Homo sapiens: one gene and its partners. The protein of the gene in region 4 interacts with the protein of the main gene of each other region in a pairwise test. Each region holds a gene or a part of one and is shown on either strand. Other genes may lie near its edges. The genes, in order: LETM1, DGLUCY, SLAIN1 and PSMA3.

What was found.
Region 1: the proteins of PSMA3 (region 4) and LETM1 interact in binary tests that used the Homo sapiens proteins (3 or more experiments, as listed by UniProt).
Region 2: the proteins of PSMA3 (region 4) and DGLUCY interact in binary tests that used the Homo sapiens proteins (3 or more experiments, as listed by UniProt).
Region 3: the proteins of PSMA3 (region 4) and SLAIN1 interact in binary tests that used the Homo sapiens proteins (3 or more experiments, as listed by UniProt).

The regions. Positions count from the first base shown.
Region 1 is NC_000004.12:1,832,152-1,839,187, reverse strand, and holds part of LETM1 (mitochondrial proton/calcium exchanger protein precursor), read left to right. Parts: intron 1-2,615; coding exon 2,616-2,759; intron 2,760-4,205; coding exon 4,206-4,343; intron 4,344-6,240; coding exon 6,241-6,444; intron 6,445-7,036. UniProt on the Homo sapiens protein: Plays an important role in maintenance of mitochondrial morphology and in mediating either calcium or potassium/proton antiport. Mediates proton-dependent calcium efflux from mitochondrion.
Region 2 is NC_000014.9:91,173,046-91,180,081, reverse strand, and holds part of DGLUCY (D-glutamate cyclase, mitochondrial isoform b precursor), read right to left. Parts: intron 6,794-7,036; coding exon 6,643-6,793; intron 4,149-6,642; coding exon 4,026-4,148; intron 1-4,025. UniProt on the Homo sapiens protein: D-glutamate cyclase that converts D-glutamate to 5-oxo-D-proline.
Region 3 is NC_000013.11:77,756,657-77,763,692, reverse strand, and holds part of SLAIN1 (SLAIN motif-containing protein 1), read right to left. Parts: intron 2,866-7,036; coding exon 2,583-2,865; intron 549-2,582; coding exon 473-548; 3' UTR 1-472. UniProt on the Homo sapiens protein: Microtubule plus-end tracking protein that might be involved in the regulation of cytoplasmic microtubule dynamics, microtubule organization and microtubule elongation.
Region 4 is NC_000014.9:58,268,811-58,272,508, reverse strand, and holds the end of PSMA3 (proteasome subunit alpha type-3), read right to left. Parts: intron 2,092-3,698; coding exon 2,024-2,091; intron 1,576-2,023; coding exon 1,511-1,575; intron 659-1,510; coding exon 614-658; 3' UTR 505-613; downstream 1-504. UniProt on the Homo sapiens protein: Component of the 20S core proteasome complex involved in the proteolytic degradation of most intracellular proteins. This complex plays numerous essential roles within the cell by associating with different regulatory particles.

The DNA of each region.
Region 1 (7,036 bases), on a different chromosome or scaffold from region 4:
TTTGTCCTCTGGTGCACCAGCTCCTGCTGTCCTTCACGGTTCTGAAAAGATTCTCCATTTTCTGTCTTTGTTTCAGGGCTGCAATCTAGATGTTTTCTTTCTATTTTATTCATTCTCTTTTCAGCTGAAGTAATCTTGTTTAATGCAGCCACCAAGGTTTTATTTTCAGTGCCTATGTTTTTAACTCTAGAAGCTCAATTAGTTTATTTTAAATTAATTTTTTAATTTAAAAGAGATGGAATCTCACTTCAGAGGGGTAAACCTTGTGTGATGTAGGTGGTGAGCTAGTTTCTTCAGCACAGATATTGTTTGCTTCTGTGAGAGCCATGGGACACCATGGGCCTCAGAGAGTGCAGCCCTATGTGGGAATCGAGTCCACTCTCTCCCAGGTGCAGCCTCATCTCCTGTCTGCTCCATCCTTTCCTCCCAAGAACACCTCATGGTTTCTAGCTCTTGGGGTTTATATTACGTTTTTGTGGCTCTACTATTTATTTACTTATTTTTATTTTTGAGACAGGTTCTCGCTCCCCCACCCAGGCTGGAGTGCAGTTGCAACCTCATGGCTAACCAAAGCCTCAGCCCTCCCGGGCATAAGGGATCCTCCTACCTCAGCCTCCAGTGTAGCTGGGACCACAGACGCACGCTGTCATGCCAGGCTAATTTTTAAATTTTTCGTAGAGACTGGGTCTCACTATATTGCCAAGGTTGGTCTCAAACTCCTGACCTCAAGCAGTCCTGCTGCCTCGGCCTCCCAAAGTGCTGGGAGGCCTTCCTTTTTAAAGATAATCCTGGCCGGGCGCAGTGGCTCACACCTGTAATCCCAGAACTTTGGGAGGCCGAGGCGGGCCGATCATGAGGTCAAGAGATCGAGACCATCCTGGCCAACACGGTGAAACCCTGTCTCTACTAAAAATACAAAAATTAGCCGGTCGTGGTGGCGGGCGCGTGTAATCCCAACTACTCAGGAGGCTGAGGCAGGAGAATCACTTGAACTCGGGAGGCAGAGGTTGCAGTGAGCCGAGATCGCGCCCACTGCACTGTATCCTGGAGACAGAGTGAGACTCCATCTCAAAAAAATAAAAAGTAAAAAAAAAGATAATCCTGTGCACTGAAATGTGCTCTAAAAGGTTGGGATTTGCAGTTCTGCTTTTGTGTTTACAAACATTTAAGAAGTTATTTTCTTGGTTGGGTGTGGTGGCTCACGCCTGTAATCCAGCACTTTGGGAGGCCAGTGCTGCAGATCACCTGAGGTCAGGAGTTTGAGACCAGCCTGGCCAACATAGTGAAACCCTGTCTCTACCAAAAATATAAAAAAAAATTAGCTAGGCGTGGTGGCGCATGTCTGTAATCCCAGCTACTCTGGAGGCCGAGGCAGGAGAATCGCTTGAACCAGGGAGATGGAGATACAATGACCCAAGATCAGGCGATTGCACTCCAGCCTGGGTGACAGAGCTAGACGCCATCTCAAAAAAAAAAAAAAAAAAAAAACTTGTAAATTTGGATTTTAGTGATGGTTTTGCAATGTATAAATTTACCAAAAATCATCAAATTTATTTAAAATAGTTGAATGTTATGGTATGTAAATTACACCTCAGTAGAACTGCTAAAAAAATTAATGAGGCATATCAAAAAACACATGTGCCAGCTTTAAGGATATGTCCTGCCCAAATATGGCACCGTTTGGGAATAAAGACAGCCGTAAATTGTAAATCAGTCAAAAAATACAGGAGTCCATGGGTCCAGTGCGATAAAAAAACAGAAAAATGAATGTATAGGAAGGCAGGGTTCTCCCCTCCTGCAGATGACAAGATAGGAGAGTTAGGCAGCCACTGTTTTGTGCCCATGAGAGTGGAGGCTGGCTCAATGAGCGCGGGGTCGGGAGAGAGGCTGATGAGGAGGAGGACATTGCTGCTCTCAGGGCGTCTCCCTGGGAACGCTCACTTGTTGCCAGTGGAAACGCAGGAAACGTAGGAACTACATGGAACACCTTGGCCAAGGGACCCCTGTGAGCAGCACCAAGGAGGGGCAGCATCACCCGCGCTGTTTTCCAGCAGTTGTTCAGGCTTCACAGGGATTTCTGATTATTTCAAATTGGATGTTTCTTTAATGGCATCAAGTACTAGTTTGTTTATGTCAATGAAATACTTGGGTTTTTTCCTAATGATTGCTTTGTAGTATAGTCTTAGGAAACACAAGAGAAGCCCTCCTTATAGAGCACCCTCCAAGAGAAGGTGTGGCTCAGCCTATCCTGGTGACTCTCCACCACGCTAGTAATGCCCAGTCCTCAGCCTGCAGCCCTCACTTGCTGGCCCCCGAGCCCAGAGTGCTGGCCGGTGTCCTCGGAGGACTCGATCGCTGGGAGCACCCAGTGGCCCTTGGTGTCAGCACCATACCCTGCTTTTCTGGAGGCTGCTGGTACCTGCTTTGGACCCTGAGAAAGAAGTGGGTTTTGGGAATGGTCTGCTAAGTGGTTCTGGAACTTAGAGTCCTCAGTGGGTCCTGTGAGTCGCTGCCTGAGGTTGTGCCTATAAACCATTATAGGAGAAATGCTCACACCCCTTGCCCTTGTTCCCACATGTGCTCTGCTCCCCTCTGATGGATTCCGCCCCTTCCAGTTTCTCCGGATCTGCGCTGACCTCTTCCGCCTGGTGCCGTTCCTTGTGTTCGTGGTGGTGCCGTTCATGGAGTTTCTGCTGCCTGTTGCTGTGAAGCTCTTCCCCAACATGTTGCCATCCACATTTGAGACTCAGTCACTCAAGGTAAGGGCAGCATCCCAACTGCTTGTTTTAGAATGAGTCTGAAATTCATTGTGATGGCTTCCTTGTTTGTGACTTTTCAGGTGCTAGATATTTTTGAGACTTTATGTATCTTCATATTGTCCTTGTGCTGTGCAATAATTATTTAGTGGATGCTGGGTTTTGGATTTGTTTCTCTTTATTTCGTTATTTATTTATTTATTTATTTATTTTTGAAACAGGGTCTCGCTCTGTCACCCAGGCTGGAGTGCAGCAGTGCGATCTTGTCTCACTGCATACAACCTCTGCCTCCCGGGTTCAAGCGAATCTCCTGCCTCAGCCTCCCAAGTAGCTGGGATTATAGGCATGTGTGCCACCATACACAGGTCTCGCCCTGTCACCCAGGCTGGAGTGCAGTGGTGCGATCACGGCTCACTGCAGCCTCAAGTTCCTGGACTTAAGTGATCCTCTTGTCTTAGCTCCCGAATAGCTGGGACTACAGGCTAAGCCACCACATCTGACTAATTTTTTTTTGTTTTTTATAGACAAGATCTGCTATGTTGCCCAGGCTGGTCTCAAACTCCTGGGCACAAGTAATCCTCTTGCCATGACCTCCCAAAGTGTTATTATGGGTGTGAGCCACTGCTTCCAGCTCAATGTATTTTAAAATACAGGTTTTCTAGACCAGGAACACTCCCCTACCGGTGCTATAGGGGAGTCATGAGGTCCTTCTAGGGCAGGGTCAGCCAGCTGCAGCCCACAGGCCAGATCAGGACCCTGCCTGTTCTCAGCAGAGCCCTGTGGGGACCTGCGATGCCCAGTCATGTGTCTTGTCTGTGAGGCACCAGCAGAGTTAAGCATTTGTTTTAGACCACACAGCCATGAAGGCCAGACGCCTTCCTGTCTAGCCCATTACGGAAAGTGTGCCGATCCTTGCTTTAGGGAATCACACGAGTTTGTTTGTTTTTGTTTGTTTGTTTGTTTGTTTTTGTTTTGTTTTTGTTTTTTTTTTGAGACGGAGTTTCGCTCTGTCACCCAGGCTGGAGAGTGCAGTGGTGCAATCTCAGCTCACTGTAGCCTCCACCTCCTGGGTTCAAGCGATTCTTGTGCCTCAGCCTCCCAAGTAGCTGGGATTACAGGTGTGCATGCCTGGCTAATTTTTGTGTTTTTAGTAGAGACGGGGTTTCACCGTGTTGGCCAGGCTGGTCTCAAACTCCTGACCTCAGGTGATCCACCCACCTTGGCCTCCCAAAGTGCTGGGATTACAGGCATGAGCCACTGTGCCCGGCCCACACGGGTACTTTTTAAAACCATGAAATAAAAGAGTTTGAGAATGTATTGCACTTAGATGAGAGTCAGTGTGTTGTGAAATGTTTCTGGGAGTGGGGGTCGGGCACAGGCGTGAGATGTTTTCCTTGCCCGAACCACAGTCTGAGCAGTTGGAATGCAGTGCCCTCTCTGCCCTTGCAGGAGGAGAGGCTGAAGAAGGAGCTTCGGGTCAAGCTGGAGCTGGCCAAGTTCCTCCAGGACACCATCGAGGAGATGGCCTTGAAGAACAAGGCAGCCAAGGGCAGCGCCACCAAAGACTTCTCTGTGTTTTTCCAGAAGGTGCTGTGATACGTCTGAGTCCCTGTGACCTCACCAGGGAGCCTTCCCTGATTTTCTGTTTCCCTTTCGCTGTGCTCAGCAGAGTGGAGCTCCCCCAGGTGCTGGCTGGCGCTTGAAAGTTTACCCAGGAGGCTCAGTCGGGGGCCAGTGGAGTGTCAGGAGTCTGCCCCCACGAGCTCCCAGTGAGTTAAGCTGTGGTGGCTGCGCCTCGTCAGCCTTCAGAATTATGGGCGTCTGTGTCTCATCACCCTGCAGCTGTCCAGGAGCAGTAGAATCTGACCCATGAGGAGCCTGAGACCCTGATGGTGTGAGGTGTGGGTGGCTTGGCCGGGCTCCTCTGCTGGGCATTGCCCTCTGGCTGGAGTCAGTCAAGAAGATCCCAGGTCCCAGGGGCTGGTCAGAGGCCTGGACTGTGGGAGCAGTGGGGGCTGGAGAGGAGGAGCGGCCCTTGAGGTTTCCTGCGGTCATGTGGTGAGTGAGGTGAGGATGGGGAGACGGCAGCTGCCACGGACCGAGATCCCTGAGGACTAGATGGGGTTCACGAGGCCGGTGTTGTTGGCTTGAGGGACTTGTGCCACTTTGGAGTGAGAAGGATGTGTCTGAAGTGCAGGAAGAGCTTAAACCAGGGCCTAGAAACTCCAGCCATGCGTGTGCGTTGTCTGTGGGGTTTTCCCGCTGCAGCACAGAGGCGAGTGGTTTCCATGGCTGCAAAGCCAGAAATACTTGCTGTCTGGCCCTTGACAGAAAAGACTGCCAGGCTGAGGCCTAACCACGGAGAAGCCTCTCGGGAGGAGGCGACACAGCCATGGGGCTGCTGAGCCCCCCAGGGAGTGGGTGGTGGTTCCAGCAAGATGTTTTAGGGGGAGCCATGCTTTGGGAGCCTCACCCAGGACATCGTGCCTTGCAGAGCAGGAGGGGCCCGTCCCAACCTTTCCTGGGCCGCCCAGCTGCCAAGAAGGATGTGCTTGCAGTCACCTGCACGGGGGTGTGCTGCATAGGGCCGCCCCCAGGAGCACACCTGAAATTGTGTCTCAGAGCTGGCATCCTGCATGTTACGATTTGAGTTGGGCACCAAGTCAGCCTCGTCCTCCCTCATCTGTCACCTCTGCTAGGTACCCTCCTAGCCCAGCTCTTGGCAGAGACTGAGCTGGTGGCTTGTCCCTCAGGTGGTAGGAACTGCAGAGGATCACCCAAAGGGCCCTGAGTGATCCACGCTAAGGGACTCTAGCTCTCCCTAAAGAGCTAGATGGCCACCCCTCCCCCAAGGCTCAGGCAGTCATCCGTGGGAGATGTAGGTGCACACAGGTGCACCTCTTCCTGCCCCAGAGCAGCAGGGTCCCGGCCACTTCTGTGGCAGAGAGAGGATCACAGGACCTGCATGCAGCAGCCTGTGGGCCCGGGCGTCTCCCCCAGCAGACAGCAGCCTCAGCTTTGCTGGTTCAGGCAGGAGAGGTCCACAGGCCAGACGCCACCTTTCCCCAGGCTAGCCCAGCACCGGAGTCAGAAGTCAGTGGTTTGAGGCCAAGCTGGGCAGGTGACTTGAGGTCGGGTATTTGAGACCAGCCTGGCCAACATAGTGAAATCCCATCTCTACTAAAATACAAAAATTAGCTGGGTGTGGTGGCGCAGCCTGTAATCCCAGCTACTCGGGAGGCTAAGGCAGGAGAATCCCTTGAACCCAGGAGGTGGAGGTTGCAGTGAACCGAGATTACACCACTGCATTCCAGCCTGGGTAACAGAGCGAGACCCTGTCTCAAACAAAAAAAAAAAAGAAGAAGTAGTCAGTGGTTTGAGTCCCTGAGGATGAGAGGCAGCACCCTTTGGGAATGTGGTTGGTCGTGGGAGGGAGCCGGGTGGGCGCGTGTCCCGGGGATGACCCTTGTGACCACTTCCGCAGATCCGGGAAACAGGGGAGAGGCCCAGCAATGAGGAAATCATGCGTTTTTCCAAATTATTTGAGGATGAGCTGACCCTGGACAACCTGACACGGCCGCAGCTGGTGGCCCTGTGCAAGCTGCTGGAGCTACAGTCCATCGGCACCAACAACTTCCTGCGCTTCCAGCTTACCATGCGGCTGCGCTCCATAAAGGCAGACGACAAGGTGAGCCTGGCCATACTCCGCGCCACAGCTCTGGTGTTTTACCTTTTCGTTTCCTGATGATAAAAGCAGCATGTCCTCATTGTAGAAACTCTGGAAGATGCTGAACGATCGAAAATAAGCTCACTAGGAGTCTTGCCACTTGCAGATTGCAGATCCTTTGAAGATGGATGTCTTTTCTCTGGCACCTTCTCGGATGATCTCTCTGTTTGGATTTCGTCAGATTTATAATAACTTGCTTAGTTGTGTCTGTCTTTGTGTTCATCCTGCTTATTGATGACAGTGCCTCTGTGCCTCTCTCCTCACATCAGGGTCTTCATCGAGGGTCCATTTGCCCCTTTGCCCTGTCCTGTCCATCGCACGTGCTTGCCTCTGTGCTTCACGCCCTTTTGTGCTTTCAGGGCGCTGCCCTCCTTCTAGGTCTGATTACTCCTTTTTTTTTTTGAGACGGTGTTTCGATCTTGTTGCCCAGGTTGGAGTGCAGTGGCGAGATCTCGACTCACTGCAACCTCTGCCTCCTGGGTTCAAGCGATTCTCCTGCCTCAGCCTCCAGAGTAGCTGGGATTACAGGCGCCCGCCACCATACCCGGCTATT
Region 2 (7,036 bases), about 33 Mb from region 4:
CCTGTCTCTATTAAAAATACAAAAATTAGCCCAGCTTGGTGGTGCGCCTGTAATCCCAGCTACTTGGGAGGCTGAGGTGGGAGAATTGCTTGAACCTGGGAGGCAGAGGCTGCAGTGAGCTGAGAACACGTCACTGCACTCCAGCCTAGGCAACAGAGCAAGACCTTATCTCAAAAAAAAAAAAAAAAAAAAAAAGTGTTTAGCATACTCGTGGTTTAAAAATGTAAAAAAAAAAAATAAATTTTTAAGAAAGTGTTCAGCAAAGTGCTTGTTTCAGAGTAAGCCCTCGATGGTTTGCTTAATTGAACAAGCATATATTTTTTTTTTTTTGGAGACGGAACCTTGCTCTGTCGCCCAGGTTGGAGTGCAGTGGTGCGATCTCGGCTCACTGCAACCTCTGCCTCCCGGGTTCAAGAAATTCTCCTGTCTCAGCCTCCTGAGTAGCTGGGATTATAGGCGTGCACCACTACACCCGGCTAATTTTTGTATTTTTAGTAGAGACAGGGTTTTGCCATGTTGGCTAGGCTGGCTCGAACTCCTGACCTCAGGTGATCCTCCTGTCTCAGCCTCCCAGAGTGCTGGGATTACAGGCGTGAGCCACCGCACCCAGCCTCATCTATATATATTTTTAAAGAGATAAGGCCTTGCTCTGTTGCCCAGGCTGGAGTACAGTGGTGCAACACAGCTCACTGCGGCCTCAAACTCCTGGGCTCAAGCAATCCTCCTGCCTCAGCCTACCACAGTGCTGGGATTACAGGCATGAGCCACAGAGCCTGGCCTGAACCACGTAGTATCTTACTCATTCTTAGTTCCTTATGCCTAGCTCATTAAGTGCTTAATACCATACTATTTACCTCTTCTGCCTTCCTCAGTGTCATTACTATCTTTGAGTATTCATCTCTACTCAGTTGTATGCTCCTGGAGAAGAGCGACCATTGCTCATTCATCTCAGGATCCCACAGAGGGCCTTGCGCATAATAGGTGTTCAACAAATGCAGATGTGAATTGAGTAAATAAATCTTGGATTTCACAGAAACAATAAAGTTTCTTTTTTTTTTGAGACAGAGTCTCGCTCTATCACCCAGGCTGGAGTGCAGTGGTGAGATCTCAGCTCGCTGCAACCTCCGCCTCTGGGGTTCAAGCAATTCTCAGCCTCCCAAGTAGCTGGGATTATAGGTGTGTGCCATCACGCCTGGCTAATTTTTGTATTTTTAGTAGAGACAGGGTTTTACCATGTTGGCCAAGATGGTCTTGAACTCCTGACCTCAAGTGATCCGACCACCTCAGCCTCCCAAAGTGCTGGGATTACAGGCGTAAGCCACCACACTTGGCTTAAAGTTTCATATTTAATAGAAAGAGTCAGCCAGCACTTCAAAATAAAAATCTAATAGATACATAACTTTTAGATTTGATGTGTAAGGGGAAAAAGTCTTGAATCTGATGATGAATTTAATTATCGCTTGTCTGTGTTTTGGATGGCACCTAAAACTGGTCACTCCAAAACCAGGTAGATGTCAGAACAGTCAGCTCAGAGCATGACACGGGGTTTTGCCCCCATCAGTTGTGAGGTCTGTTGCACATAATCTATTGCTAATAGAAGTTTAAATATTGAAGTTCAAGGTAGGCATGGTGGCTCACGACTATAATCCCAGCACTTTGGGAGGCTGAGGTGGGAGGATCGCTTGAGCCCAGGAGTTCAAGACCAGCTTGGGCAACATAGTGAGACCCCATCTCCACAAAAATTTAAAAATTAGCTGGACATGATGGTGCATACCTGTAGTCCAGCTACTCCAGAGGCTCAGGTGGGAGGATTGCTTGAGCCTAGGAGGTCAAGGCTACAGTGAGCTGTGATCGTGCCACTGCACTCAGCCTGGGTGACAGAGCGAGACCTTGTCTCAAAAAAAAAAAAAGGGAATTTGAGAATGATTCAAGATTGTCCCTCTCTGATGTCATTTGTTCTCATCTACGATCAATTGTGCTATCGCTGTCAGAACTAAAGGACTGGAACATGCCATGCTGGGGTGCCCACAGCAGTGAGATCTCCTCTGCAGGGCACCTGCCACGACCGATGGTGGGAAAGCGGTGAGGCCACTGGGCTGGGGGACGTTTACTGCACGTGGGTGGGTGTGTCTACACACATGCCCACACACACACTCAGACAAGACCATGAGCGCCCAGAGGACTCCATCCTGTCCCATGGAGCACTGTACTCCTGAGGCCTGGGTGCATGCCTGGCACATAGCAGGTTCTCAACACATGCACTTAAATAAATGAACAAATGGAATCCTGTGGATCTTGGCAGCCACGCCTCATCACCACATTAGGGATGATCTTTCCCTCGCATGAGGCCATTCTGATAGCTGAACTCTCACGAATGCTTTCAAAATAAATTAAAGTAACACTACAGTATGTGCTTACAGCGCAAGTGTGGCTGGCCTGGCCAGAATTTTCCAGTGTCCATGACCATGGTCTGCAATAGCTGTTATTTTTCATGTTTCTGTCACCTTCCTATCTTACTGAGAGCTAGCGAGGGCGCCCTCGTGTGTCTCTTCATTGTAATATCACCTAGGCCTTGGAAAAAATGTACTGCTGCTGGCCTTGTTTATAATCACCTTGCAAATACCACAGGAAATGACTTGTTTAGTTATATTTCTTGGCTTCACCTTTGTTTTCAAGGCCCCATCAATCTCCAAAATGTCTCAAAAAGCCAAGCTAAAGGTTAGTCCTCCTGCTAGAATGGGCTGGGATGCTTCAGCAGATAAAAATATATATTTAATCAAAACGGCTGAAGCAATGGCTCATGCTGTTATCCCTATGACTCAGGAGGCTGGGGCAGGAGAATCACTTGAGCCCAGAACTTTGAGACCAGCCTGGACATTGTAACAAGACCCCATCTCTACAAAAAATTTCTAAAAATTGGTTTGGTATGGCGGCGTATGCCTGTAGTCCCAGCTACCTGGGAAGCTGAGATGGGAGGATCACTTGACCCCAGAGGTTTGAGGCTGCAGTGAGCTATGATGATGCCACTGAACTCAAGCCTTGGCAATAGAGTGAGACTCTGTGAAAGAAAGAAAGAAAGAGAAAGAAAGAAAGACAAGACAAGAAGGAAGGGAGAGAGAGAGAAAGAAGAAAGAAGAAGGGAAGGAAGGAAGGAAATATATTTAATCAAAACATATTTGAGGCTGGACACGGTGGCTCATGCCTGCAATCCAAGCACTTTGGGAGGCTGAGGTGGGAGGATCACTTGAGGCCAGGAGTTCAAGACCAGCGTGGCCAACATGGCAAAACCTCGTCTCTACTAAAAATACAAAAATTAGCCAGGTGTGGTGGCATGCACCTGTAATTCCAGCTACTTGGGAGGCTGAGGCACACCTCCCTCGCTGGAGCCCAGGAGGCGGAGCTTGCAGTGAGCCGAGATCGTGCCACTGCACTCCAGCCTGGGCGACAGAGTGAGACTGTGTCTCAACAAAACCAAAAAACCAACGACAAAAAAATTGAGTTGTAAGACAAAGTGCTCTGGTAAGGAGATCCAGCCCTGGGATTAAAAGAAGGAAACCAGGCCAGGCGCGATGACTCACGCCTGTAATCCCAGCACTGTGGGAGGCAAAGGTGGGCAGACCACGAGGTCAGGAGATTGAGACCATCCTGGCCAACATGGTGAAACCCCGTCTCTACTAAAAATACAAAAATTAGCTGGGCATGGTGGCACATGCCTGTAATCCCAGCTACTCAGGAGGCTGAGACTGAAAAATCGCTTGAACCAGGGAGCTGGAGGTTGCAGTGAACCGAGATTGCACCACAGCACTCTAGCCTGGCAACAGAGTGAGACCCTGTCTCAAAAAAAAATAAATAAATAAAAGAAGGAAACCAGAGAGAGATTCACTGTAGCTGTAGGCCTCTGTTTTGTGTTTTGTTTCATGGCTTTATTTTTAAATCATTGTACTACGAGAATATGCTTTCAAGAACTAGACCCCACTGGGCTCCATCCTAGGGCAGATCGATTGTCCCATTATCCCCCAACGTACCACAGCTGCTGACAGCTCCGAGACTGGTCAGCGGAGAAGGCCAGAACACTGGAACCTCCCCTGGGGGACACACCATGGCATCCCCGTAGGCAGGTTTGGAAAGCTCTTTGATTCCCAACAGTTCTGCAGATGGAAAAGGAAAATGTAATTTCCTCAGCAGGGAGCATCCAATTAGAACTGGTTGAGTAGTTTATGGTTCTTTCTCTAAAACAGAAACTCAAATTGCAGGATTATTGTAAATGGTATTTGAGGAAGAGGTGAAGGAGAATAGGGATTAAGGCTTTGACAACTCAGGCTACTCCATAATTTACAGTCCATGTGGCATGGTGGTTTCAGAAAACAGAATCTCAAACTGTGTGGCGTGATTTCTGGAAGGATCCTTGGGTGCATTGAGCCTAGTACTCTCATTGTGCAGATTGCTACCAAAGCCAGCCTTGGGGGGTTGACCTTGGTCCAGGCTGGGTCACATCTCATGCACCTAACCTCAGCTGCTTGACTACCAGCAGCAACCTAATCCCGAAGACAGCAAAGATGGATGTGCTGGGCCCAATCCATCCCCGCTAATGATAAAACTCCTCAGCAGACACCATCCTGGTGGGTGGCCCTGAATCATCCTCATGTGATGAAGCTAGCAAGTACTGACTGCATTTTCACAAAAGGCTAGGTTCTGTCTAATGTTGTCGGTTATGCAGTTGAGCAAGTTTAGGTATACCAAACTTGGACCCTCAACCAAGGCCCAGTCTCAAACTCTCATCAGGCCTTCTAAGAGGCCTGCACAGCTTCTTGATATTGGCTCTTCATCTTGGATCTGTTCACTCACTCTCAGATTGAGTGAATACGCTGGGGATCAATGGATTTCAGCTCAAATTAACATATGGAACAAAGCCATCTCCTACCCAAATATACCAAAGAATAGCAGCCCAGATTAGACGTTGCTTCGAGCTCAAATCTCCGGACAAAGAGCCCTGCTGCAACCCTTGGCTTCCTCCAACCCCAGATTCATTGGAAGTTCATAGGAGCTTTACATTTATCAAAGATCCCCAGTGGGTGAGCGTGTAGAGAAAAAAACTCTACCTAAATGGTGTGTTTCCTCTGCTCTCACACCGCAGTAACAGTCATCCACACAGAAGACTCCTGTGACCAAATTTGTAGGGGTTTCTCCCCACCATCAAGCAGGAGGCACCAGCTGGGTGCCCTCCAATTCCATTCCACCTGGAGATAGCATCAGAACCCACGGGTTGAGGGCTCAGTCCCCAAGGCCACCCCCCTACAGACACCAGTTGCAAGTCTGGGCCTCCAGAACTTCTGACCAACTGGCTTCCAGTTTGATTAACCCTCTTTGGGTTTGATTATACCCAAACTCTTTGAGTTTGATTAATTTCCTGGAGCAGCTCACAGACCTTGAGGAAACATTTACTTATGTATACCAGTTTATCATAAAAAATATTGCAGACCGGGTGCGGTGGCTCATACCTGTAATCCCAGCACTTTGGGAGGCCAAGACGGGCAGACCACTTGAGGCCAGGCGTTCAAGACCAGCCTGGCCAACATGGCAAAACCCCATCTCTACTAAAAATACAAAAATTAGCTGGGCATGGTGTTGGGCACCTGTAATCCCAGCTACTTGGGAGGCTGAGGCAGGAGAATCGCTTGAACCCAGGAGATGGAGGTTGCAGTGAGCTGAGATTGCAACGCTGCACTCCAGCCTGGGCGACAGAGGGAAACTGTGTCTCAAAAATAAATAAATTAATTAATTTAATTAAATTAAATAAAGGATATTGCAAAGGATACAGATAGAGATGCCCAGGGCAAGGTGTGGGGGAAGGGGTGCGGAGCTTCCATGCCCTCCTTAGGCACCACCCTCTAGGAACCTACATGTGTTCAGCTATGTAGAAGCTCACTGAAGCCTATCCTCTTGGGGTTTTACGGAGGCTTCATTACATGAGCATGATTGATTAAACCATCAGCCGTGGGTAATCAGCTTGACCTTTAGCCCCTCTTTCCTCCCTGGAGGTTGCGGGGAGGGGTGGAGCTGAAAGTCCCAACCCTCTAATCCTACCTTAGTCTTTCTGGTGACCAGCCCCACCCTGAACCTATCAGACAAAATACAGCATTTTGGAGGTTCCAAGAATTTTAGGAGTTATGAGCCAGGAATTGTGGACAAAACCCAATATATATATTCATTATATATATATATATTTTTTCCTATGTATGTATTATTAAGCCTCGGTAAAAACCCAAAAGGATGTGATATATATAAACTTACATCACAGTGAGACTGGCTATTCTGCCAAGGGTGGCACCTTTAAACCTGAGGGGCATCTGTAAGCCCAGCCCTGATACAGCTGCCAGAGCCTTTGAGCCTTGTTCAGGGCCTTTGCCCCTGGAGACCCCTGGTAAAAACAAAGACAAGCCATGGGAGCTTAGGAACGTGGCAAACTCCTGTCTGCTTCTTAGGCCCAACTCCAAGAGAGGCTGTCAGGATCATGGGCAGGAGCGAGAGACACTGACCTGGGTCGCCGATGTGAACAGGGGGATCATGGGCAGGAGCGAGAGACACTGACCTGGGTTGCCCATGTGAACAGGAAGATCATGGGCAGGAGCGAGAGACACTGACCTGGGTCGCCCATGTGAACAGGTTGCCCCTGCTCACCTCCGAGGGAGCAGCAGGCCCGCACCAGCCCTTCCAGCTTGTCCTTGGGAATGGGCCTCATCGTGACCACCAGAGGGCAGCAGAAGCCAGCATGGGTAACACAAGGCACTGTTGTCTGACCAAAAAAAAAAAAAAATCAAGTGAAAATGTTAAAAAATGGAATTAGCACAGATCCAAGCTCTGAGCACCAAGAGTTCAAGGCAGCTAAATGAAGGAGGAGTAGCTGTTATAGAAATTAGCTTCTATTTTTATGTGACATAGAGAGAGGGAGTTTGCTGTTAATTACTGGTTTAAAATAGGGAATCTTAACTTTTTGTGTGCCACGGACCCCTTTGGTAGACTAGTACAGCTGTGGACC
Region 3 (7,036 bases), on a different chromosome or scaffold from region 4:
GCACAAAAAATAAAATTCCTGTAAACTATAAAAAAGTAAATTTCAAAGCATACATTATAGAACCTAGTTGTCAATATGCAATGTATTAAAATACAGAACATGTAATGGAAAGATGTTTAGAACACGTGAGTAAATTGAACAAGTTACTTTAAAAAACTCATATGGCAAAGCATTATTGATACATCTTAATTCTCTCAAAAAGTATTCAGGTACAGAGCAGTTCTACAAAAACTTCCTAGATCTAAGTGTCACAATACTGCAACCATGGGTTTGAGAATGTTGCAGTATCTCAGGCAAATATTTAAGTGCAATAATTAGTCTCTGGTGACTGGTCCATTGAGAAACAATGCAGTAAATATATTAAAACACAAAAGGGAAAGAATATCCCAACATCCACTGCTACCCAGCCAGCTAGGTAACACAACCCTCATTTTTACTTCTTTCCCATTTTTCAAGGGTACATAAAACTGCATTAGTAGCAACCATCTCTCCAATTTCCATCCCTCAGAGTGCTGAGTGAAGACAGAGGCTTTGGAGGCTGAAGAAAACTAAAAAGAGACAAGAAAAACAGAGAGAGAGATTGTTAATAATCCTATGAGTCACATCACTCACTTTGACCTACTCTCCCATCTATGTTCTTCCACTGCAGTAATGAGAAGCCACTGGCACCATCTCAAGTGTACCTTGTGGTTCACACTTACGGGTCTTCACTGCATGCTTATCTCCCAGAGCCCCAGTTCATGGCAAAGTGTCATGCATGTTGTATTTGCACAAGAAAATTTGCAACATAAATAAAGGGGCCAATACCCTTAATGTATAAAACATATTTTAAAATAAGAAAAATATAGGATCCTGGCTAGAAAAATGACCTAAAAACATAAATGGTTACTCTGTTGAATACAAACAGCAAATGAATATGAAGACATTTTCAAAACCTTATTAGTAATTGAAGATTTGCCTATCATATTCGCAAAACATTTAAAAAGAATCTTTGGCTGAGTGCAGTGGCTCACATCTATAATCCCAACACTTTGGGAGGCCGAGGCAGGAGGAAAACTTGAGGCCAGGAATTCAAGACCAGCTTGGGCAACATAGCAAGACCTTGTCTCTACAATTTTTTTTTCAAATTATCTGGGAGTGGTGATATGCACTGTAGTCCTAGCAAGGCAGGAGGATCACTTGAGCCCAGGAGTTTGAGGTTACAACAAGCTACAACCATAACACTGCACTCCAGCCTGGGCAAAAGAGCAAGACCCTGTCTCTAAAAAGAATAGATAAAATAAAAAATTTAAATTTAAAACAATTAAAAAGAATAATACCTAGCATTTGCTTAAGTTTGGGGAAATAGACCATCTCACATTGTCTAGCAGTGACCTTTCCAAGAGTTTAGTTTGGAGACACATAGTCAAGGATAAATGTATGGTCTACAATAACCATATACATCAAATAATGTGATTCTAGTCAGCCATCAGCATGATGACACAGCTCTGCATTTACAAAGCAGAATAAGCCAAAACTTACTGAATAAATAAACATGTACCAAAATTATTTCTATCTGGCAGTAGGATTATGGGTCAGTCTTTACTTTTCTATTTTTCAATAGTTTCTGTTTTTCGAAATTTGTTGTTGATCTGAGCATCTATTACTTCTAAACAAACAAAACAAAATAAAACTATTTATATATCCATAAATGCATAAAGACAGAAAAAAATTGCTTGTTCCACCTCTTTCAAACTTTTTACTATGGTTTTCTCCTTCTCCTTCATATCCTAATTTCTTGAAAGAGCTGTCTGTATTTATTGTCTTTATTTCCTCATCTACCAATCTCTCCTCAAACCACTTTTATGGATTTTTAATATAAGATACTCCATGATATCCAGTTCAAGAAGGGAACATCATGACCAAGAGCTAGACTAAATGTCCTTTGAAGTACTCTGAAACTTTGAAGGGAAAAAAAAAAAATTACTACCTGGACCATACTGAACTTACCAACATAAGCTGATAAAGCCCCAGGTGAATGTCATTAAGATGCTTTTCAAACCATAAATGTGTGGGAGGAGGGTGTGCGTGTGCACATACGCCTGACACATTTTTCCATATTTTGATTAAAAATGACTGATTCAACAAATATTTGAGATCCTACCTGTATTGGGCATAGTTCTTGGCATCGGGGATACACAGCAATGAACCAAAAAGTCAACCTCCCCCCGCCCTACAATTTTTGGATAGAGCTGCCATCTGAGCAAAGACCTGAGGGAGGCACAGAGCAAGCCATGCAAATAACTTGGGAGCAGAAAGCTACAAAAGCTCTGGAGACAGAGCTTATCTGGTAAAAGCAAAAGCAAAGAGCGTCTTAGGAGTGATAGTGATGAGGGAGTAAGGGAAGAAAATGACATCAGAGAGAAGGGGACCTGACCCACACAGGGATATCCATCACTTTTCAAAGGGAGGAGAGCACAAGTCAGGCCATAAAGGGTAGTGTCTTACTAAGGTTAAAGTGAGCCAAAGGAAAAGTCAGCGTGTGTCTGGAGCAGTTTCTAGTTCCAAACTGCAAATGAAGTTACGCAAATACACATTCTTACCTTCTAACAGGTTGTGCAATTTTGCTTCGAGGCAGGTTACTCCCATTTATTGCCAACGAAGGTCTTGGGAGTGCACTGCGACCCATTATCCCAGAAGCTGCAGCTTTGTTCGGTGTGGGGATTCCTGTGTTGGAATACAGCTGTAAGCCGTTTGATAAAGGCATGTTACTGCTGCCTTGAACGGTTGGACTCACATAGGCTGTGGCTTTAAGAGGCTGTCGGATAGACACTGGGAAATGCCCCACGCTGTGGACCCTGTGTTGAAGCTGTCCCGGTGATGGAACTAGAAGAGAAAATGATATTCATGTGAGCAACCTTCTACCACTATCCGACTTAGGAAATGTGTGTTATTTTCAGAAGAGTCCATTATGCCTGAGAGTACAATATACACAGGAGGAGAAAAACAGAATATAGGTTCCAGACAGCACTGAGAAATGGAAAATTCTAATCCTTGACAAAGATCTCCTGGTCTGTCCATCAGCCACATTTTGGAGTGCCTGGCTATATGCAGAAGCCAGTTCTAAGCACAGCCTCCTTTCCTTTACAAATGTGATGATGTCTGAGTTCTCACAAGAGAAAGTCTTCCCCGTTTGCTTGCTAGACATTAGGATTTCTTGATGCTTGCTTTGGTGGTGGTTCCAAGAAAATAAAATGAGGAGATACTTTAATAGTTGTAATTACAGAAAAGAAGACAAGGTGGTATCTGTAGGTACAAACAGTTTATTACAGATATATTCCTTAAATAATATTCATTATGTCATTTATCTATCTGAGTTGCTGGGCATTATTACATTTATAATAGTAGCAAAACCTATAAAATGAAGGGCACTGGGAACTCTCTGGATAAGAACCCTTAAAAATTTCATCAATATACTGATCCAACTTTGTGTATCATTTCACATTAAAAGTAACAAACTGGTAGGCAGAAGTTTTTAAATTTTTTAATCCCTTTCTCCAAGGAAAACAATCAAATTTAATAGAAACTTATGCACAGAATTCTGCTTACATACTAACTACCCAAGCCTTTGATGCCTAGTACTGGCAACATGGTTAAACATGGACATACCCTGTTTTCTAAAACAGTTGAATTTACTTAATCATGAAATATATAAATACTTTTTTGAAATAAATATAAGGGGGAAAAAGACCCAAAAAAGTATCTATGGTTTTATTTATCATCTCTTGAAAATATTTCCTTAAAAATAGTTTTTCCTTAAATTTTTTTTCCTTAAAAAATGTGTTTAATTATACAAGGCAAAATCTATACACAGAAATACTGATACATGTGCTATCAAAAAGATAACACATCATGATCAAGCAGGTTTCATCCCAGGGATATAGAAATGGTTTAACATAGGCCAATCAGTAAATGTGGTACATCACATAAACAGAATTAAAAACCAAAACTATATGATCATCTCAACAGATACAAAAAAGCATTTGATAAAATCCAGCATCCCTTTATGATAAAAACCCTCAACAAAACAGGCATACAAGGGACTTACTTCAAAGTAATAAAAGCGATATATGACAAACCCATAGTCAACATCATATTGAACGAGGAAAAGTTGAAAGCATTCCCCCTGAGAAATGGAACAAAACGTCCTTCACAACAATGTCCACTTTCACCATTTCTAGTCAACATAACACAGGAAGTCCTAGCCAGAGTACTTATAGAAGAGAAAGAAATAAAGGGCATCCAAATTGGAAAAGAGGATGTCAAACTGTCACTGTTTACCAATAATATGATTAGATACCTAGAAAACCCTGAAGATTCATCCAAAAAGCTCCTAGATCTGATAAATGGATTCAGTAAAGTCTCAGGATACAAAATCAATGTACACAAATCAGTAGCACTGCTGTATACCAACAACAACCAAGCTGAAAATTAAATCAGGAACTCAATCCCTTTTACAACATCTATAAAAAATAAAATAAAATACTTAGAAATATACTTAACCAAGGAGGTGAAAAATCTTACAAGGAAAACTACAAAACACTGTTGAAAGAAATCACAAATGACACAAACAAAACACATCCCATGCTCATGAAATGGAAGAATCAATACTGTGAAAATGACCATACTGCCCAAAGCAATCTACAGATTCAATGCAATTCTATCAAAATACCATCATCATTCTTCACAGAACTAGAAAAAACAATCCAAACAATCCTAAAATTCATATGGAACCAAAAAACGGCCCACATAGCCAAAGCAAGACTAAGCAAAAAGAACAAGTCTAGAGGTACCACATTAACTGACTTCAAATTATACTACAAGGCTATAGTTACCAAAACAGCATGGTACTGCTATAAAAATAGGCATATCGACCAATTGAACAGAATAGAGAACCCAGAAATAAACCCTAATACTTACAGCCAACTGATCTTCAATAAAGCATACAAAAACATAAATTGGGGAAAGGACACCCTATTCAGTAAATGGTGCTGGGAAAACTGGCAAGCCACATGTAGAAGAATGAAACTGAATACCTACCTCTCACCTTATACAAAAATCAACTCAAAATGGATCAAAGACTTAAATATAAGACCTGAAGCCATAAAAATTCTAGAAGATAATATTGGAAAAATTATTCTGGACATTGGCTTAGACAAAGAAATCATGACTAAAATCCCAAAAGCAAAGGCAACTCAAACAAAAATAAATAAATGGGACCTAATTAAACTACAAAGCTTCTGCACACCAAAATAAATAATCAGTGAGTAAACAGATAACTCAGAGTAGAAAAAAATATCTGCAAACTATGCATCTGATAAAGGACTAATAGCTAGAATCTACAAGGAACTCAAATAAATCAACAAGAAAAAAAACAACTAATCCCATCAAAAAGTGGGCAAAGAGCATGAATTGACATTTCTCAAAAAAAGATACACAGCCAACAGACAAATGAAAAAATGTTCAACATCACTAATCATTAGGGAAATGCAAATTAAAACCACAATGAGATACCACCTTACCCTGCAAGAATGGCCATAATTAAAAAGTCAAAAACAATAGATTCGGTGTGGATGTGGCAAAAAGGGAACACTTTTACACTGCTGGTGGGAGTGTAAATTAGTAGACCCACTATGGAAAACAGTATGAAGATTCCTTAAAGAACTAAAAGTAGAATTACCATTTGATCCAGCAATCCCACTACTGGGTATCTACCCAAAGGAAAAGATGTCATTATTTGAAAAAAAGACACATTCATACGCATGTTTATAGCAACAGCATTTGCAATGGCTTAGATATAGAACCAACCTAAGTGCCCATCAACCAACGGGTGGATAAAGAACTGTGGTATATATACACCAAGGAATACTACTCACCCATAAAAAGAAACAAATTAATATTTTGCAGCAACTTTGATGGAACCAGAGGCCATTATTCTAAGTGAAATAACTCAGGAGTGGAAAAGTAAATATCGTATGTTCTCTCATGTAAGTGGGAGCTTAGCTATGAGGATGTAAAGGCATAAGAATGAGATAATGGACTCTGGGGACTTGTGGGGAAGTCTGGGAGGGTGGTGAGGGATAAAAACTACATATTGGGTACAGTGTACACTGCTTCGGTAACAGGTGCACCAAAATCTCAGAAATCACCACTAAATAACTTATCCATGTAACCAAAAACCAGCTATACCCCAAAAACTATTGAAATAAGAAAAAAAAAAAGAAATGTTGATACATGTGTATAGTAGTCAAAAAGCTTTATAAAAATAAAGTCTATGTAAGATCCTCCCTTAGGTGTGTTCCCATTTAGCTTTGTGACACAGCAAAGTCCTCTTGGTTGACGAATCATCTCTAAGATTCTTTCTAATCAATTCTGTAATGCCTTAATTTGCTAGTTTTTAACCATGCAAATATTTAATATACTAGTTCAGCAACTGTAACAAGTCTACTGCACTAACACAAGATGTTAATAATAGGGGAAACTAGGAAGATACAGAGGGTGAGGGATTACATGGGAATTCTTTGTACTTCCTGTTCAATTTTTCTATAAACTGAAAACTGCTCCAAAAAAGTGTTAATTTTTTAAAAACCTTCAACACATGAATTTGGCTCAATTTCTTCTGAAGCATAATATACATAAAATACATACATCTTAAGTCTACAGCTCAGTGAATTTTCAAAGTGCATATGTTCATGTAACCACTAATCATATCAAGATAAAAAGCATCACCAGCACCTTACAATGCTCTCTCATGCCTCTTCCTAGTCAAAACTCCCCCAAAGGTAAGTGTTATTCCCACTTTTATCACAACAGACTGTTTTTCCCTATTTTGAGCTTCCTAGGAATAGACTTATTAGTATGTTAACCTTTTAATCTGGCTTCTTTCACTCGACACTTTGTCTGTGAGATTCACCTGTGTTGCTGTATTACTAAGCAGTATTCCATTGTATAAATGTGATTATTCCCCTGATGACAGAAAGCTAGGTTATTTCTAATT
Region 4 (3,698 bases):
TATTTTTATTTTAATCTTTAGAGATCAAGAAATTTTTTTAGTGACAGAATAGGGACTTTATTGATCCTTAAATCCGCCCCTCACCACAATAAAGGAAAAAAGCAAAAACATCCTTGACTCATGTATTGAAGGGTCTTTTTTGAGAAGGGTCAGTTTTTGAAAAATTATCCAAAACTGAAACATCTGTCATCTGTATCACATCTAAAGATTAACAGTGACTGATGACCACCAGTTACTTCATATGAAAGTGGGAAACCGTATCAGTTATTTGTCCACTAAGTTGGTAGGTGCTTTTTGTACAAAAGCCCAGGAGAATATGATCTGTAAATTCTAGTTGAGTGATGAAGATGGGGCTTTGAATTAATCTACAGTCTTGGAATTAATTCTGCAGCATTTTAACCAGGGAATTTTTCAGTAGTCATAAATCTATATTTTAATACTGAGTAAATGTCCTCATTTACCCCCACCAATTTTGTAAAGCAGATATTAACCAAACTTCAATAGTTATAAGACAAAAATTTAATGAAAATTGGACAGTATGTATAATCCAGGGCTAAATAGTTACATTGGACTGGAGTAGAAATTTAAAATACAATAGATGCTGGAGTAAATGTTACATATTATCATCATCTGATTCATCTTCTTCCTTCAGAGATTCCTGTTAAGAGAAAACAGGTGTTTAAAATTGATTTTTAAAATTGTTATATCCCACACCTGTGGGCAAGTTAAGCTACAACAACCTGAATTAAGTGGTTAAATTCCTCTACTTGTAACTGAATGAACAGTTTCAGAATAAGATACCCAAGCAAAGTTAATTAAGCAAATGTTGCTCTAACATGCAATGACTGTATCTTTGATAGAATATATACTTAAGAGGCCTGGTGCAGTGTTCATGCCTGTAATCCCAGCACTTTACGGGGGCCAAAGTAGGCAGATCACGTGAGTTCAAGAGTTTGAAACTAGCCTGGTGAAAACCCGTCTCTGTATTATTGGTGAAGCCAAAAATACAAAAGTAGCCAGGTATGGTGGCATGTTCCTGTAATCCCAGCTACTTGGGAGGCGGAGGCAGGAGGATCGCTTGAACCCTGGAGGCAGAGGTTGCAGTGAGCAGAGATGGTGCCACTGCCCTCCAGCCTGGGTGACAGAGCAAGACTCCGTCTCAAAAAAAAAAAAAAAAAAAAGAACAAATATTTAAAGTATTAAAAGTCCTAAAAAACTCTTTGCAGTCTAAACCTCCCAAGTTTTTTTTTTTTGGAACCAAGGCAACTTTACCCACTAGAGATAACCTAGAAAATTTCTATCTTTAGTTCAACTGAACTCTCAGTGTTATTTCATAGAAACCACCCCAGTCTATTTATATTATTCAACACATAATTTTGGTTAGAGAATTTTTTTTTTTTTAAATTAGGGATGGGGGTCTTGCTGTGCTGCTCAGGCTGGTCTCAAACTCCTGGGCTAAGTGATTCCCTGACTGTACCTGGCCAAGAGAAGTTTTTGTGCTGTGGCTTACCTTAGCATATTTCTCTGCTTCTTCTCTTATATCTTTTGGAACAATTTCATGTCTTCCATTAGTTACTGTAAATTAAGCCACATGTGTAAATGAATTTTAAATTGAGTACCATATTGTAACTTGCAGTATACCATAGGATCTACCCAATCCACATATCTGACTCACCTAAGGTTGCAAAGTTGTACTATGAGTAATACTCGAATATTTTTGTGTGCTGCTTCTACATGAGATTATATGTGCCTACATATTAAGTTCTTATGGAAATGAAAGTAAATTATGCTATTTATAAATCCTGAGCATTAATTTATAGCATAGTATCTTAAAACCATGAAATGGATGTTTCAAAAAATAACGTGTTCACAACTTAAGTCAATTATTAAGCAGAACTTTCCCTTCATTAGACAACCTAGTAAATTTGCTTTAGCTTTCATTATATTAGAAAGGACACTCAGTTGTAAATTAGCTGTGGTACAGATCATTCCTAAGGCAAATAAATGTACAAAAATAACTTACATTCACCAACCCAGCTGAGTTCTAGTTCAAAAGCTTTATCCTTAACTTCGTCATGTACTATGTAAATTCTAGAATAGAAAAGGGAAAGGTAAGATTTTGGTAACCTCCAAACATTGAAGTAGTTCACAGACCCAAAGTCAGTACAAATTAGAATGTCCATCCATAATAAAAGTATCTATAAAATTACACAGACACATTCTACATAGTATTTAACATTAGAGAAGACAAATTACACAGGGACTGAAATAAAATGAAACATCTACTCTCCCGACAAATGTTGAATATACCTAATCAACCCAAGTTCAGTTTATTTTTGCACATTGCTTTAGAGATATAACTTGGCTGGGCACAGTGGCTCACACCTGTAATCCCAACACTTTGGGAGACCAAGGCGGATGGATCACTTGAGGTCAGTTCGAGACTAGCCTGGCCAACATGGTGAAACCCTGTCTCTACTAAGAAACAAAAATCAGCCAGGTGTGGTGGTGGGCGCCTGTAATCTCAGCTACTCAGGAGGCTAAGGCAGGAGAATTCCTTGAACCCGGGAGGCAGGGGTTGCAGTGAGCCAAGATCACACTACTGCACTCCATCCTGGGCTACAGTAGAGCGAGACTCCATCTCAGAAAAAAAAAAAGATACAACTATAAAAGATACCTCATAAAGAACACGGATTCACTAGGAAGAGGCGTCATTAACTGTGCCCTTTTAGAATATTTTGTCCATTAACTTAAATATATTTAAAACCAACTAATTGGCTGGACATGGTGGCTCGTGCCTGTAATCCTAGCACTTTGGGGAGGCAGAGGCGGGTGGATCATGAGGTCAGGAGTTCGAGACCATCCTGGCCAACATGGTGAACCCACGTCTCTACTAAAAATACAAAAATTAGCCAGGTGAGGTGGCCATAGGCCTGTAGTCCCAACTACTCGGGAAACTGAGGCAGGAGACTTGCTTGAACCCAGGAGGTAGGGGCTGCAGTGAGCTGAGATCACGACACTGCACTCCAGCCTGGGCAACAGAGTGAGACTCTGTTTCAAAAAAATAAAAAAAAAAAAACTAATTTATGTGCTTGCAATTATTAGTGGTCTCTTCAACCTATAGCTTCTTGGCAGTAGTCTTTTTAAGCTCCTTGTCCATTTTATAATGGCATATATGCCACATAACCTGGCCTTCACATTGTAGTACCTTACAAATTACAGCAAAGAAGGAGGCACTGTCATGCAACATATTAAAGTAACATAAAAAGTATCAAGAGGCCAGGTGCGGTGGTTCACATCTGTAATCCCAGCACTTTGGGAGGCCAAGGTGGGTGGATCACAAGGTCAGGAGTTCAAGACCAGCCTGGCCAAGATGGTAAAGCCTGTCTCTACTAAAAATACAAAAATTAGCCAGGTGTGGTGGTGGGCGCCTGTAATCCCAGCTACTTGAGAGGCTGATGCAGGAGAATTGCTTGAACACGGGAGGCGGAGGTTGCAGTGAGCCAAGATCGTGCCACTGCCCTCCAGTCTGGACGACAGAGTGAGACTCCATCTCAAAAAAAAAAAAGTATCAAATTAAGTACAGTAGCAGAGTATAGCTTTATCTAATACTATGCACTGAGTTACATACCTTACTTTTTGGAGGGTCTTCTAAAACCTTGCTATAATATGAGAGGATCTTGATTTTCTACAACTAA